2 separate regions of the Homo sapiens genome follow, and region 2 is linked to region 1. Evidence: fine-mapped expression QTL. A gene starts in region 1. The other region holds a variant in brackets. All regions are shown on one strand. Distances are from middle to middle.

Region 1 (8,337 bases):
AGCAATCAAAGACTTGCAAATGGCACAGATTTTCTCATGAATTGAGGACTGTCCACACAGATAATCTGGTGCCTTTATAGAAGAGTAAATAAAAATGTTTTCCCCTCATCTTCCTCATTTTCCTTCTTCTTCTTCTTTGTCTTGAGGTTAGGAAGGCATGAATCAACAGCCCAAAGTCCAATCAAAAAAAACACAGGCTCAGAATTCCCAAAGAAAAATGGTCCAACTTTGGTCACTATGCCAAAACAACCTTGGTGGGTCTTGCATTCTGTTAGCCAAACACGTGCGCACACACACACACACACACACACACACACGAACATTTACCAAGAAAACATGCTCTGTTCTTGGGCTCCTCTCACCAAAAGGCAAAGAGCTGTTCACTGCTTAGCTTTAAGCTAGCCAAATCCAACAAAGCCCCAGAGACTTTTGGCTTAATCTTCTCACTGAACTCATGCCAGCCTTGCACGGGCACAGCCAGGGCATCATCACCCAGTCTTAGGTGTTGGCAGCTTCTCCCACCAACTTCTTAGCACTTTCCCTGCTCAGGGCAATGGCAAAGTATACCCTCCCCTCCCACCCACTGCACTTGGGCGCACTTGGGCGCACATTGCAGTCAAGTCCTTTTTTTAGGTAATTCTGCTGCTCAACAGTATGCCAGAAAGCACCTGCCTAACAGAGACACTAGATAGTCCTGTCAACTAAAAGTCATAACTAAAATATAAGGAGGGAAAAGTCCTCATGTGTATTATCTCCATTACCACTAAACTGGGAGAAAGGTTTTTCCCAAGACAATCCTTAGGTTAATTAATAATTTCCAGTTCATTTAAAACATCTCTCATATTTGTCTCCCTTCCTTTCCTGCCACAACCATTGTAGGCCAGAATCTCATCAACAAAATTCTGTTATTAACAAGTCTTAAAACTTCTGTTCTTTTCTTCCTCCAAACCATCATAAGTATGATGAAATAATCTTGCCTAAACACTTATTTCCACCCATCATTTAACAATTCCTACTCAAGAGCCCGAATAACTTCCTGTTCCTTACAGGATAAAACTCAGACTGTGAAGAGCGCTAAGCAAACTCCTCCATATTCTCTCAGACCCCCAAGAGAAGTTACAAAGAAACCAGACATCACCACCAGGGCCCCCAAGACCCTTTTATCTTGCTATATCACAGTTCCAGACAGTTGCACAATGATTGAGGGCACTTGGATATCCACATACCATGACATTCTAGGCAGAAATTTTACACTGGGCATTTCATGTAGACTTCAGCTCCTTCCCCTAAGGTTCTCAAATGCATTGGCATGCATACTAGTTACATTCAAATCAATGGGCTGACCACTATTGTATTTCTTCAAAGGACAGTTTACCTGTTATTGGGAAACACTTGGCACACCTAGCAATGAACTTCCAGGCACAAGATAGTAAGTGAGCAAAATAAGAAGGAATAATAAATCAACATCAGAAAAAAAAAACACAAACACATCTTGATGCTTGTAGGACATCGTGTTCTGGTGAGAGCAACGGAGAGTTGGAAAAACAAAGTAGATGGCTGGTGGTAAATCATCACCCTACCAAGCCAAGCAGACCAACTCAGGGAAAGCCCAAGAGAAACAAATGGCACTGCCTTAGATGATGAATAATGGCCAAGGAGGTAGAGAATGCTAAAGAACAGAAGTCAAGACCCTTGGGAGGAATACGCATCTGTCCTCTTACTCCCTTTCTGGAAGAGAGCACTGAGAAATTCTATTGCCTTGCCTGGCATCTACTACTTCTAACTAAAGCAATACAAATAACCTTGAAGCTTTCCACAATACAAGCTTTGTTTTTTAAAAATGAAATAGCATAGCTTTTCCTAAATTCTTAAAAAGCAACAACAGCAGTTTACATCTTTCCCCACTGATCTTTCCCTCAAGAGCTTTCCCCCCATCTCCAGCCAGTGCTGCCTGAGCCTGTGTCTTACTATATGAGGTCCTGACATCCCGAACCTTTAGGAAGTATGACTGTGGCTGGTCATCTTCCCAACTCACCTGTAAGTACCTTCAGGACAAGAATAATGAACTTACCTTCTTCTCTATGTCTTCTCATTTATCCTCCCACATTGTCCCCTAGCACTCAGCCCAGAAGGTTCTAAAGAAATACCAATACTGCCTGTTAATATAAATTAAAATGTATTCTTGTTATATAATGTAAATCTGAAAATTCCCTTCCTTTCTTTTAGATATTTCCTGTATCCTTTATTCCTTCTATTCCTTTTTCTAGCAAACTTTCATACTTACCAAACAACCCTATTTTGTGAGGGATAGGCTATCATCACCCAGAACCGTCCGCCGCCCCCCCCCCCCCGCCCCCCACCACCCTATCACCCCACAACATACACAGAGCTGACACTTGGTTTAGTTTGTGGTTAACAGGGGTGGCACTCTTTCTTCAACTTTTGTTTGAAGGTTTTAGGATGCAAAGTAAAGCCACTGGCCCCATTTCTCTGCAAGATTATCCTGCCCAAATCTGTATGAATCACCAGTGGCCATTTCTCATCTACTTCCCCAAAATTATTAAAGGTTTTATTGTATAATACCTTCACCACCTTCCTACCCTAAGAAGTCCTCTTCTGGCTCATTAACCTCCTTCACATGTTGGGGACAAACCTCAGCATTGCCTACAACTCACTTATAAGAAAATATAAGTTTCTATACCAGGCATGATTTGTGATTGCAGTGCAATTTTCCTATTAAGTCTAGAGCTTATCATTCTTCTCTCCTACACATTCTGGTCTTTCTCTACCCCTTCTTTCCATTCTGCCCCCTTTTTTCCTACCCCTCTCCCCAAGAAATGAACTGGTTTCCATTCAGCAGGTTTAGTCTTGCTTTGGCCAGCTTATTGTTTCAAAGTGGTTATAAAGTTGCTGGGCTTGAACACAGATTATTAATTTTCAGGCATTCATGATGTCTCCCTGTTGAGTGTGGTATGTGCAGGTGTGCACATGTGTACCTGGGGTAACTAACACTCCTGGACTATGCAATTTTGCTGGTGACTGAAAAGATGAAGTCAAAGTTGATTTGATTATTGAAGAATCACATTATTTTAGAGGTATACAGAATGTCAGAGTCCAACTTTGGCGTTTTACAGATGGGAAAACGAGGTGGGGCAAGGTAAAAAGACTTAGCCAGAGTCATAGGTTGATCAGTAGGGGGACTAAGGCTTCAGCTCTGAGCTGTCATATCTCAGTCCCCCAAGGCTTTTCCACTCACATAAATTCCCCCTCAAGGGCTCAAATGTGTGAGTGAGAACCCAGGATGTCCACATACAAACAAAAATGCATCATAGACATGTGAACATGTACACACAGAGAAGATAGGGAGTTATTGCATTTGTAGCCTACAAAACAGAACCGAGAATGTGCTGTTAAAATTAGAGTAAAACTGCTGTAAGCAGGTTAAGTTCTCATCTAAAGAGATCACATTTCCCCACCATACCCCTGCTATCCATTTCCCCCAAGTGGCTCATTAGAAAAAAAGATGGCTAGATTTCAAAAAGCAACTTGGAGAGATTTCTATAGGATTTTTCTTTAGTTCAATCAATACAGAGTTATCTCTTACTTCCACGAAAATAGCTTTTTCACACATCTCTGCACACACAGTCACACACACATATAAAACATTGGCAGCAGGTACTTTTAATTTGCTGGAAAATATTTCTAAGAAGTCAAAAAGCTCCAGCTGAATTGCATGCCCTCTTATTGGCTCACCAGACCAGTTGAGGGACCTGATTGGTCCTTGATCCTGAGGACCGATAAGAACGGCTATAAAATCCCTGGGTGCAGCTCTTGGGCCCCCAGTTTGCAAAAGCCAGAGGTGCAAGAAGCAGCGACTGCAGCAGCAGCAGCAGCAGCGGCGGTGGCAGCAGCAGCAGCAGCGGCGGCAGCAGCAGCAGCAGCGGAGGCACCGGTGGCAGCAGCAGCATCACCAGCAACAACAACAAAAAAAAATCCTCATCAAATCCTCACCTAAGCTTTCAGTGTATCCAGATCCACATCTTCACTCAAGCCAGGAGAGGGAAAGAGGAAAGGGGGGCAGGAAAAAAAAAAAACCCAACAACTTAGCGGAAACTTCTCAGAGAATGCTCCAAAACTCAGCAGTGCTTCTGGTGCTGGTGATCAGTGCTTCTGCAACCCATGAGGCGGAGCAGAATGACTCTGTGAGCCCCAGGAAATCCCGAGTGGCGGCTCAAAACTCAGGTAAGCAGCAAACCCAAGAGCGGTTTCTCCCCCAAAGAGCTGTCCTCATTTGCCTCTCCCTTTTGCAACTGTGTCTGTGACGGCTGATCTTGATAATAAATGTGCTTCATGCCTGATGGCAATAAACTGCCAGTGTAATCCAATAGCCTTAGGCAGTGGAGCTCCTTTGTTTAATAAATTGCATGCAACTAAACGAAGAAGCTGGACGCTCTGCTGAGGGTATTTCATTGCATAAGCCTAGCCTGATTGCCTGAAATCTGGCACGTACCCTCTTGGAGGGGGAGGGGTGAGAGGGGAGGAAAGGCTTGAATGTTGGCATGCTTCAAAGCGCTCTCTATACTTTCCAGAAGCTGATCTAAGGTAAGACCTGGCTTGTTTGATGCTGTCCCTCTTCCTTTCCTCTTAAGACTCTACCTCTTCACTTCTTGACTTCTCTACCTAAGAGAATACACAGAAAAGCTCCCTCTTCAGACTGATTTTCAGAACCATAGCCCTCAAGTCTGACAAATCCAGGGCGGATTCAGAGAAAACCCTATACATCCCACCCCCAACCCTGCTGCCTGTCTCCCTCCTGGCTCTGTAGGGCTCCATTCAGTCGTCCCTGCAGCCCGTAGCCAGAGAGCCCCTAGAAAAAAAAAATTGTGAAACGTAGCAGCTGTTTCTCCAAGGGTAAGGTCTCACTTTCGTCTTGACTCTTGGAGCAGTTAATTGTGCATTATCTTGGCTTCTGAAGGAAAAGAATCATTAGGAAGCCTGCATTGACACCTCTGCCTCTTGACTTCTCTGGCTCCACTTGTTCCCCTTCCAATACTGCCCTCTGTCCTCCAACTGTCAGCAAAGACCGGATCACAGGTGTCAAAATGCTGCAGATGATGATCCCCTTGGAAGAGCACAGGTCCCTGCCGAGAGGAGGGCTTTTGCTTCACTTCCTTTTGTACTTAGTTGCTATAGAGATGCAGTGATTCACAATTCGAGCTTGCCTAAAACAATAGCAGCCCTAATGCATATTAAAACTGCTTAAAGCAAAGTTATAATTTAAACCCGTGGAAATATATAATTAGGGAAATGACTTGTAACATCCTAGAGGCTGCGGGTGGTGGGAGGGGGTGGGGAAGACTAACTGAACCATGCTTTTGATCTCAGAGGAGAATCCTATGGCATGAAGGCTGCAGATCATTCCTTGCCTAGCTGCCTGCCAGAACACCCCCCTTCTGTGGGAGAAAAATTACTTTTATGGGAGATCTTATCCAGAATGTAGAAAGCCTCATGCAAGTTTTTTGCGGTTTTCTTCCAGTCTTGCATAGGGAGGCCTTGGCCTGGTTATTCCACACCTGTGTTTCTTCTTTCTTTCTTTCTTTCTTTCTTTCTTTTTTAAAAGGCTTTTAATATGAAAGAGATTATGCATACCTCTAAGCACTGTCCTAGTGGAGGGTTGGGGTGAAACATGAACGGATCAGATTTCTTTTTGCCAATATGACGGTAAGTTAAAAGCCTGAAATCAGAAGGGTCTCCAAGTGGACTCCTGGCACAGTCTTCTCTGCCATTTAGACTAAAATCCCATGCTTTTTACTCGGGAGTGCATTTTTCCAAAGCTAGATGGATTCCCTGGCCCTTTTACCTCTTAAACCTGACCACTAGCCACTGTCTCCTTCCTTCCCATGCTTTCAAGTGCTAAGCAATGACCTTTGATTCTATGGAATGGCTTAAAGGCACTGTGCATTTCCAGACTTGAGCCTCACTTCTCCAGACACCAAAATTGTAGGTAATGGTGAAACAGGGAGCGTGTGTCTGAAACAGAGAACTCCCTCCCTGTCCATCATGTACTCCAGCAATCATAAACAAAAGGAGCCTGTCTATCCTCTCTTTCTCAATCAAATGGGTCTATCAATTGCCCCTCATGACAGATTCCTAGGATAAGTTCTTCTGACCTCATGTCCTTGAAATTCACCTCTGCACCCACTTGATCCCACCCAGCCATTCCTCACTGTTTGACCCAGAATGGATGGATTTGTCTCTTTCAGCTGAAGTGGTTCGTTGCCTCAACAGTGCTCTACAGGTCGGCTGCGGGGCTTTTGCATGCCTGGAAAACTCCACCTGTGACACAGATGGGATGTATGACATCTGTAAATCCTTCTTGTACAGCGCTGCTAAATTTGACACTCAGGTAATAAAACCTTGACCCCTGCTCCCACTGGCTGCTTGTCTTTAACAGTGTGTTAGACCATGGTTCTTAGGAACCAGTCTTGTAGGGAACCAGCCCTGCTTCTCAGCTTCCCCACTCTAAATTCCCATCTCAGCATGTGTATGCACAAGTGTGTGCATGCACACACACACACACACACACACACAGAGGCACTCATCTGGCCAGGAAATAGGTTCTGTATAAGACACGCCCCACTCACTCTAATGCATGATTCTAAGGAGCTAGTAGAGGCTGTCTTATAAGGCCAGGGGTAATAAGCCAAAAAGATTTTCCTCTGTAAGAGGACATAAAAACGTGCATAGAGCAAGGAAGTTCTCTCTGCATGACCTAGCATACTAGCTTTTGATCTGAATTCTCAAAGTCTCAATCTCAAGAATATGAAGTCAGATTACGACTATTTTTAAGCTGCAGAATGGTTGATCACGGTTCATCTTTTTTTTCTGTAATTTCATTTCGGTAGAGCTTAATTCTCAAGGGAATCCAGGGAGATGGGGAGAGGGCTTTTTTTTTTTTCAATCCTTAGCCGAGACATGCAATCTTCTCATTGCAAGGATATGCAGATGGCCATGATACGTTGCCCAGATGAGCCCCCTTAAATTCCTCCATGTATATGCCCATCCTCTTTGTCAGGTCAAGCTAAAGACCTCCCTCTTGTCCTTCCTCCATGGCAGGGAAAAGCATTCGTCAAAGAGAGCTTAAAATGCATCGCCAACGGGGTCACCTCCAAGGTCTTCCTCGCCATTCGGAGGTGCTCCACTTTCCAAAGGATGATTGCTGAGGTGCAGGAAGAGTGCTACAGCAAGCTGAATGTGTGCAGCATCGCCAAGCGGAACCCTGAAGCCATCACTGAGGTCGTCCAGCTGCCCAATCACTTCTCCAACAGGTACAAACTGAGTCTACTTTTTCACAATCAGGGGACTGGGAGCAGGTGGCTGGCTGGCAGAGCCAGACTGGGAGGGAGGGTTAAATTGCCACAGTCATGCTCTTATTTTAGCTTGCAGTCTTCCCAGCTTTTGCAGGAAAAAAATATGTTTGTGATTGGTTGTGACAGTTTAAGCAGCTTGGGCTTTTTTTTCCCTACTGTTATAGGAAAAGTCTTTTCATGCAGCTCATAGAAAGCCAGCCTCATCTGCAGCATCCCTGGGTGCTTTCATTGACCATTTTTTGCCATAAGCCTGAAGGGAATGGTGAAGTTTCTGGAAACAAGCTTTTAAGACATCAGATTTGGCTGAAACCATGACCGTGCAACAACACAATTGGCCATGATTAAAAAAAAAAAAAAAAAAAAAAGCCCTCTGGTTAAATGTCATAATGCAGATTTTAAGTCTCCATCTATTTCAAATCAGTCCCAAACACAGTCAGAGATTTCACTGGGTAGCCCAGAGCAAGCCATCTCACTTCCCTGGGGCTCAGATTTCCTTTGTAAAAAGCAAAATGGCTGGACTGGACCATTTTCAGGTTTCCTTCCAGGCCTTATGTTATCCCATTCCTCTAGCCCAAGATTTCCTAGAATGAGTGTGTTTTATGGCTGTCCAGATCCCATTCTCATCTTAGTATTCAAACACCACCCAAGGCCACTGAGCTAGTACAGTAACATCTGGGCATTGTACTTTTCAGTGTTTTTACCAGCCAGGAGTGAATTCCTGTTACATGAGACAGCTGGCATCCTCAGTTCATGTGCGTGGCCTGGAAAGGTTCCCAGCAAGAACTAAGAGATGCCAATGGGGTTGGCGTGGAGGTCTGGCAGGGGCAGTGCAGACCGGTCAAGTTTAGCCCCCTGTGATATCCCTCAGCCTAAAAACTTGACTCCCAGCCTTGAATTTCTATGATTCTTTGACTCTCCACTCAAATCTGCACATATCCACAATGATCAGTGCTTTGCATGTTACTCT
Region 2 (8,337 bases), 53 kb after region 1:
AAAAGACAAAAAAAGTAATTTAAAATATCAAAGTTTAAATCAAAATTATTTAAGTAAAGCTGAATTTTATTTAATTATTTTTACTTAGTTATATCTTACTATGTACTTTATAAAAATAAATTTATTCCCAATTCAATGTCCATCTACTTGCCAATGAAGAATTAGTATCACATTTCACAATGTTACATCTGGATCCACACATATACAAATCGAAGAGCATTTTTGTTTAAAATTGAAAATGTTCTTCAGCTGTTAGAAGCAACTGTAGCAAATATTATGTCAATCCGTGAATAACTCTGAAACCACAATTAAAACCTGAAGAGAAACCAGAAATGGATACCAGGTGCTACTGGAAAATTATACTTCATTATGCAAGAATCTATTGCATTCATGCTATCTGAGAAAATGATTTAACAAATTAATTTCAAATGTTTTACATTTACATAAGTGCTGCCACCTCTTACATCCTCACCACTCATCTAACCAGTGTCCTCTCATGTCTTTAGTGACACCACCCACAAACCTTCTCAGCATTTAAAAACAATTCTTTTCAGTTTTGAGACAAGACATAAGGCAAGAGTGGTGAAGAATTATTTCCCTGGAGTGATGAGAACTAATGTTTAAATTATATCTCACGCCCAGCACTGAGCACTAACTATCAAAGGACAGAGGCACTCATGTGCTGTTTAACAATATTTTTATGTATTTTTATTTTTTATTTTTATTTTTTTGAGACAGCGTCATGCTCTGTTGCCCAGGTTGGAGTGCCGTGGTACGATCTCAGCTCACTGCAACCTCTGTCTCCCAGGTCAAATCCATTCTCCTGCCTCAGCCTCCTGAGTAGCTGGGATTACAGGTGTGAGCCACCACATCTGGCTACTTATTGTATTTTTAGTAGAGATGGGTTTTCGCCATATTGGCCAGGCTGGTCTTGAACTCCTGACCTCAGGTGATCCACCCACCTCAGCCTCCCAAAGTGCTGGGATTACAGGCATGAGCCACAGTGCCAGGCCAACAATTTTTGGTTTGTGTGCCGTGTCCAGGACTAATAGCAATAGTTTAGGTCTGATAGCCTCCAAAAATTAAGAAATGAAAGAAGTCCATGAAAAAGAACACGATAGGACACTAAAGGGAAACATTCAGAATGTCAGAAAGAGTTCTTAATACAAAATGGTGACTATAGTTGATAACAATGTATTGTATTCTTGAAAATTGCTAAGAGAATAGATTTCAAGTGTTCTCACCAAAAAGTTATGTATATATATGAAGTAATTCATATGTTAGCTCAATGTAACCATTCCACAATGTATATATATTTTAAAACAGGTTGTACACAACTTATATGATTTTTATCAATTTAAAAAATAAACTATAAACAATATTTTGTTACCAAAAAAAAGAGTTCTTGAAAATTAAAAATACAACAGCAAAAATTTAAATCCAACAAAAGTGTTTGAAAATAATGTTGAGGAAATATCCCAGGAAGTAGAAAAAAGAGAGAAAGAAAGTTTGTGAGGTAAGTAAGGAAACTAGAGGATCAATCCAGGATATATAGCAGCCAACTAATAGGAGTTCTAGAAAAGAAAAAGAGGGAAAATAAAGAGTAACAATGCTATTATAATTTCAGTACTACCTTCAAAGAACTGAAAAATATGAGTTTCCAGATTGGACGAGCTCACTGAAAAAACAGTGCAATCGATGAAAAAATATTCTGTATAATGGTCCATCGTGTGGCATTTGTAAATACCAGGGGCAAAGATGAAAGCCTAAAATTATGTGAATGGTGGAAAAAAGAAAGTGTTCATTTACAAAAGATATATCACTGTCATTAAAACTCCTATTAGCAAAACTGGTAGAAAACAATGTAGCAATATCATCAAAATGTGAGAGGATATTGATGCCAATCTAGAATTCCGTACCCAGCCAAACTATCAGTCAAGTACATGGGTGAAATAAGGACATTTCAGAGTTTCAATATGCCCCCAAAATTGTCTTCCCAGCTACGTTTTCCAGGAAGCTACTTGTTGACCCATTCATTCCTCCTCAGTGAAAAGTTAAGCCGGAAGAAGAAGGACAGGGAAACCAGGTAACAAGGCTCCTACACAGAAAGGTAAAGGCATTCACAGGATGAGAGTGAAGAGAAGTCCCAGGATAGCAGCTCTAGTTAGACACATCTAGAAGTCTCTCTAGATTTCTTTTTAGAGAGAAATCAGCTTGACTAGAACAGATGCAGGAGGCTTCTGGACTAGGTAGTCATGAAGAAAATAAAAGTAATAGAATACCTGACAGGTTGCAAACATACTCAGACAAGATTTTCTGGTCTATTCCAGGGGAAAGTTTGAGAGATTTCACAACGGATGCAAAGAAAATTTTGCAAATAAAGAAGTGGCAATAATTAATTCCAAGAAAAATATCAAAAGTTATTTTTCAAAAAGAAAAAATGTTGTCCTAGCATACTTTGTAAGTTCAACTGTGAATATTAATTACATAGTAATAATATAAACATTGAGAAATGACTTAACCAAAAATTTTGAAAAAAAAAAACATACTGGAAGAATGCGAGAACAGTCAGAAGAATAACATGAGTGTGTGTGTAGAGGCACTATATCACTGAAAAAATAAGAAATGGTAGTATAATAATGGTCTATGGGGGAAAAAACAAGAGAGTTAAAAATATTACCATGGGAATTGGGAATGAAAGGAAATTTGGCACAGAACTACTGTTTCTTAGTTACCTACCTAGTATTATTTATTGACTTGTTAAACTATGTACCTGTTTTACTTTGATAAAATTCAATTTAAAAATCAGTTGCATGGGAGGGAGTATGGAATGAGACTGTTTGTGAGAAATCATGAAGCAATTCCAGAACAATGAGAGTGTGCATTGGCCAGGGACAAAGAGTAAAATTGTTTCTCTGCATTAAAAAGTTTATTTTAGAGTCAAGGTCGTGATTTTAAAGTGCAACTAGCCAGTGTAATTATATCTTTTCCTCCGACTGCATTTCTCCAAGCACAGATACAGGCGCCAAGCAAAAAGTTGGATTTAATCAAGGTTGCAGTTTGTCAAAGTGAATATATGAAGTGAGAAAATGGAAAGTGAGTCAAAGACATATGCAAGGGTTATAACAATTGAACATGGAATTTAAGATAGGTGAAGAAGGAATCAAGATAGCAAGGGAATCATGATAGCAAGGGGATGAAAGGCAGAGAAAATATGGTAGGACCAATGGATTGAAAGTCTGATGGAATAGAAAGGTCATTGGTGTTGGACTACTAGAGGGAGGGAGGTAGAAGAGTAGAGGCGTTGGTCAAAGAAAGGGAGGCATGAGATGGAGATTAAGGAGATGTAATTATTGGTGATGACAAAGTTGCAAATGTAACTAGGGGTGGAGGACAAAGAAA[C/T]AAGAAGAGCTTAAGAAAGTGAGGAGACAGGACTTACTTTGGGTAACATGACAACAAGCAATAAGGAAGCTGTTGGGGGGGCAATTATCGACATCCATAATGTAGAATGCCATTTTCACATTTCATATCTATGACTTTTATCTTCCTGAGTTTATAAATTCAGGATGGGAATAGCTGTTTTACCACATCTGTAGTAAATCCTGTACACATCTGAGGGGTAGGGGTGAGATATACTTACAAATCCTTGCAGAGGATGACTTCAGTTCAGAGGTTCTTTGGTGGTTCTTAATGACCTACATAATAAGGTACTGAACAGCTGTCTTTCATTTCAGAGGACATTTATGAAGTTCTACTCTATGTCTACTCCATCCTTTACCCAAAATGGCTCAAGCCCACCTATGCAGACTCACTGTGAATACATGAAAGCCACATGCCACATCCTGTCTTCATTATTCACTCAGACTCACCCTGGTTCCTTCACTCCTCTTCCTTGGGTCACCAATCTTTTGATTCTATCCTTGTTGCCCTAATTATTATTTCAAGCTTCCCATTCTAGGTCAGCATCTTGTAATTCTTCAGTGTATTTCAGCCAATTGTCTTGTTTTTGAACATGCACTGGGGCCAACCCGTATTTGGGATCATCCTCCATTTCAAATAATACATTCTCTCTGTTCATCCGAGTTCTTTGTGAGGGCCAGGCCACTCTGCACATGGGCCATAGTGAGGGTGAGTGTGCACCCTGTTCCAGACACTTGTTTCCTCTTTGAATTCTCACCAAACAAGGCAGAAGTATCAGCAAAAATAAACCAAAAAATAGTATATGCAGTTTCACTGCACCTCTTCTTCTGGGGCTGAAGATAAATAATCCAAAGTTCTTGTCCCCCAGGATATGTATTCATGCTTCATGTCTTTGGCTCCAAATACGGTCCATTGTTTTTCATCAAACAACGCATACTACATATCTAGTATGTGCCTGGAACCAGGCTCTAGAGGGGTAGACTTACAAAAATGAACAGGCTTCCATTTAGCTTTCCATCAATCCTTTGGACACTTAAAGACTATACACGAGTTTTAGTACAACTTTCCCTTGCTTTGGGAATTGGAGGCTTTGTCTACTAAAACAAGGAATAGTTTTTTGCTCCATATCCTGATTTGATTGAAGTTATGAAAAATCCAATCCTATCAAAACTTTACTGCCAATTATCTCAACATCCTGCTACAATTTTATAATTATCCAAGGAATTTATACAGCCAAAAAATAAAGTTTGAGGAATTATTTTTATACCGAATTTACAATTTTGCTAATGGTTGTTCCAAGGGTATTTTAAATTATTTTTCCCAAAGAATCTGCATTTAACTAATTAATATGCTCTTTTAAAATAGTTCCTTGATTTTTAACTTTTTACATGTTTATATTATTTTCCTAGCTAGGGCTCATGCCTGTAATCCCAGTATTTTGGAAAGCCAAGGTGGGAGGATCACTTGAGCCCAGGAGATCAAGACCAGCTTGAGCAATATAGGAAGACTCCATCTCTACAGAAATAAAAAATAAAATTCAAATTTAAGAAATCAGCATCTTATATTTTCCTCATTTTGGACACAGCTCCAAACATCTTGCTGGTTATATAGTATGCCCTTAATACACGGGTGGGAGTTTTGTTTGCTTGGCTGGTTTTTGTACTGGTTTTGTAGCAATACACTCAAGAAAGGTATAAAGAACATATTTTTTTAAGCTTTATGCAATCTCAATGTTAGTGCCTCCATTTAAAAATCAGTCTTGGCTGAGCAAGGTTGCTTATGCCTATAATCCCAGCATTTTGGGAGGCTGAAGTGGGAGGATCACTTGAGCCCAGGAGTTTGAGACTAGCTTGGGCAATAAAGGGAAAACCCATCTCTAGAAAAATATAAATAATTTTTTAAATATAACTGTCTCTAATAACCACACTATAGTTATGTAAGAAAGTATCCTTAGAAAATACACATTGAAGTATTTAGGAGTTAAAAGGCACAATGTCTCCAATTTACTCTCGAAGGGAATGTATGTGTATATATAGAGAGAGACAGAACAAGAGACAGATAACAGAGCGAGAGACAAACAGAGAAATGGTGAGACAGAGAAATGGTGAAGTGAAAATTGGAGTAGCCAAAAACATAGAGACAGAAAGTAGAATGGTGGGTTGCCAGGGGCTGAGGCAAGGTGGAAACACAGTGTTATCACGTCATAGGTATAGAGTTGCAGCTTTGCAAAATGAAAAGAGTTATCAGATGGAGTGATGGATGGTGATGATGGCTGCATAACATTATGAATATAATTACTACTACTGAACTGCATACTTAAAAATGATTAAGATGTTAAATTTTATGTTATGTGTATTTTACCATAATTTTTAAGTTGGGGGAAAAGACAGCAAATGGGGGAAATTGTCAACAGGTGATGAATCTGATAAAGAAGGGTACATAAAAGTTCTCTGGACTATCGTTGAAAATTTGCTGGAATTTTAAAATTACAGAAAAATAACAAGTGACCCAAATAAGTCAATATCTAGAAAAAAGTATACCCTAGAGTGAAAAATTCTATCTTCCATGCACTAGAAAGCAGGAGGAAAAAGAGGTTTTGAGTGCTGAGTTTCAGATGATGGATGAGGTGATGAACTATCAATTGTTTCAGTAGAGAGAGAGCCCTGATGTTAAATGAATTTTCACTTTTGCTAGGCTTGGTTTGGCTCTTAGACAACTCAGCCGTCAGACTTTAAGGAGCTTTGGGAAAATCCCAGCACACATGTTTGAGCACCGTCTAGGACTGCTTCTGAAAGCCCTGCCCTGAGACAGGTCCACCCTTGAGACACTGTCCAATGAGAAAGGAAGTCAGTGGAACAATGAGTTATAATTACAAGGGAGATGAGATGGCTGAGAGGCTGGGAAACAGCTGACATCTCTCTGCTTCTGAAAGCAATTCAAGGTGAGCTCCTAATGCTACACTGGCTCCTGAAACCACAAACTATGCCTTCTCTCCCCCAGTAAGTCATCACCAAATGCCAAAATGCATGGACTCGTGTGCTTCAGCTCCTGTATATTGTTAGGAATTTACAATTTAGAAGCCAGCATCTGGCACAGTCGGCAAAGTATTCTAATTTCCCAGCTCCCCCTTGCTGCAACCTGGTCCTCCCGAGTCCTTCTGCAGTGATCTGTGAAGCCCAGGATGGGCTTCCCATGTTCAGGTTTACTATAAACTGGCAAAGAATTAAGTCAAGAAGACTCAGGCAATGAAGAGATGCACGGGAATGCTGAGGCCTGACCACAATTGAAACTGTCTGAGTCAAAAGTCAAGAAGTCATTCACATGCCAAGGGCCATTTCCTCCACCTCGCCCCCACCCCGCTATGCTGGAAGTCAATTCTCCACAGTGCGTGGTGAGTCAGGCATGAGCACTTTGATTACGGCTCAGCTGATGTCATTCAAGAAAGCAGGGGGGGTCACCCACTGCATCAGAGGAACAGACATTTGACTGAGACAGATCCACCCTCGAGCCCTCTGGGGAGCCTGACATTTCCAGGACATGGAAAACAAACTTCCTCTCAGGAGGGAATATGCTTTCAGTGTGGGAAAAAAATAAAAAATTTTTAAAAAGAGAGAGGGAGAGAACTGGAGAGGGTCAATACATGCTCACCTCTGGCTGAAAGCCCACAATCAGGGAAATTACTGTCCTTTCCGAAAAGGTGAAAGCATCACAATGTCCTCTGGTTCACAGGCAGATCCAAGGAACTGCACGTACACAGAGAAAACCTCAGTCTTGACCCAACAGAGCCTACTGGGTCTAGCAACCATGTAACTCCCTTTCAATTCAGCTCATACATTTAAGTATTTATTGAGAGGCCACCTTGTATTTGGTGTCAAAGCTATTCTTTGTGGTGGGAAGTTGGAATTCAGATCCAACAGGGCCAACACATAAGCTTCTGTTGTTGCTGCTGTTGTAACTTACCTTGAGTTCTTATGTTCTGACACTCCCTTTGCATGGATTATCCTATTTAAATCTCAACAATTTTGCCAAGTAGATAGTATTATTTTCTCTATTTTATAAACTAGGGAACTGAGACACCAAAATACTAAGTAATTGATTGAAGATCGTGCAGAAAATGAGTGGAAGGGCAAGGGTTTGAGCCCAGCCTAGACCAGCAGTGTTCAATTGAACTTTCTGCAATGATTGCAATGTTCTATATCTGCCCTGTGCAATAAATAGGGTAGCTACTAGCCCTATGTGGTTAATGAGCCTTGAGATGTGATCGCTGCAACTGGAAAACTAGATTTTAAATTTTTATTCAATCTTATTTAACTTAAATTTAAGTTGTACTTGTTGCTAGTGGCTACCCCATTGGACAGGGCAGATTTAGACTGACTCCAAACCAAGGTACTTAACCATGTGCTAAATGGCAGATGACAGTAGGGAGAACCACACCCTCACCATCTTTTAGCTGATAGAAAACCAAATTACAATAGACATCCACGCCATTCTTGAAGAGGAAGAGAGTCGTCATGAGGCTGTAGGGAGTGGACGAGAGAAGGCCATGACCTGCAGTTGCCAGAAAAGGGAACATAGGCTGACTGGGGCTCTCCTCCAGGCACTGATGGCATATGTCTTTAGACATGCTGAAAGCATGTGGCTCACATCCCTAGCTATCTCCCTTTTCCCCCATCTACCCACAAAAGCCTCTATACAACTGTGACGCTGCTCCTGTAGTGCAGTCTGCAGGCCCTGAGTGCACGGAACCCCAGGGCATTCCACCCTCTTATGGGCACTGTGCCCAACACCAAGGAGGATGCACGGGAAAGATGTGTCCCTGGCCACCTGCTTGGGAGGAAGTAGCTCACATCCCAGAAGACCAAGACTTACCAGCCTGAACTCACTGAGTCACAACAAGAGTCAGTGTGTGAGTCAGTA

Alleles and levels. Positions count from the first base shown, and alleles are read on the strand shown. Sizes are in standard deviations (SD) of each study's normalised expression.
For the expression in breast of the gene that starts at base 3,842 in region 1, C is the high allele of the variant in region 2 and T is the other (small effect, 0.19 SD a copy in GTEx).

What was found. PIP is the estimated chance that this variant, and not a neighbour inherited with it, causes the effect.
Region 2: its variant is the best candidate, but not a certain one, in a credible set for the expression of STC1 in breast (GTEx, PIP 0.54).

Annotation. Positions count from the first base shown.
Region 1 is chr8:23,850,311-23,858,647 of GRCh38, reverse strand. It overlaps STC1 (stanniocalcin 1), which reads left to right and starts at 3,842. Exons shown (of 4, transcript NM_003155.3): 1 at 3,842-4,242; 2 at 6,264-6,406; 3 at 7,117-7,328. The coding sequence starts at 4,125.
Region 2 is chr8:23,797,064-23,805,400 of GRCh38, reverse strand. It overlaps LOC107986930 (a long non-coding RNA gene), which reads right to left. Exons shown (of 5, transcript XR_001745842.2): 5 at 2,459-8,337. Among named protein-coding and RNA genes, the nearest start is that of STC1, 54 kb to the left of the region's middle. RefSeq lists an enhancer at 6,090-7,289. The variant C/T (reference allele first, on the strand shown) is at 3,403.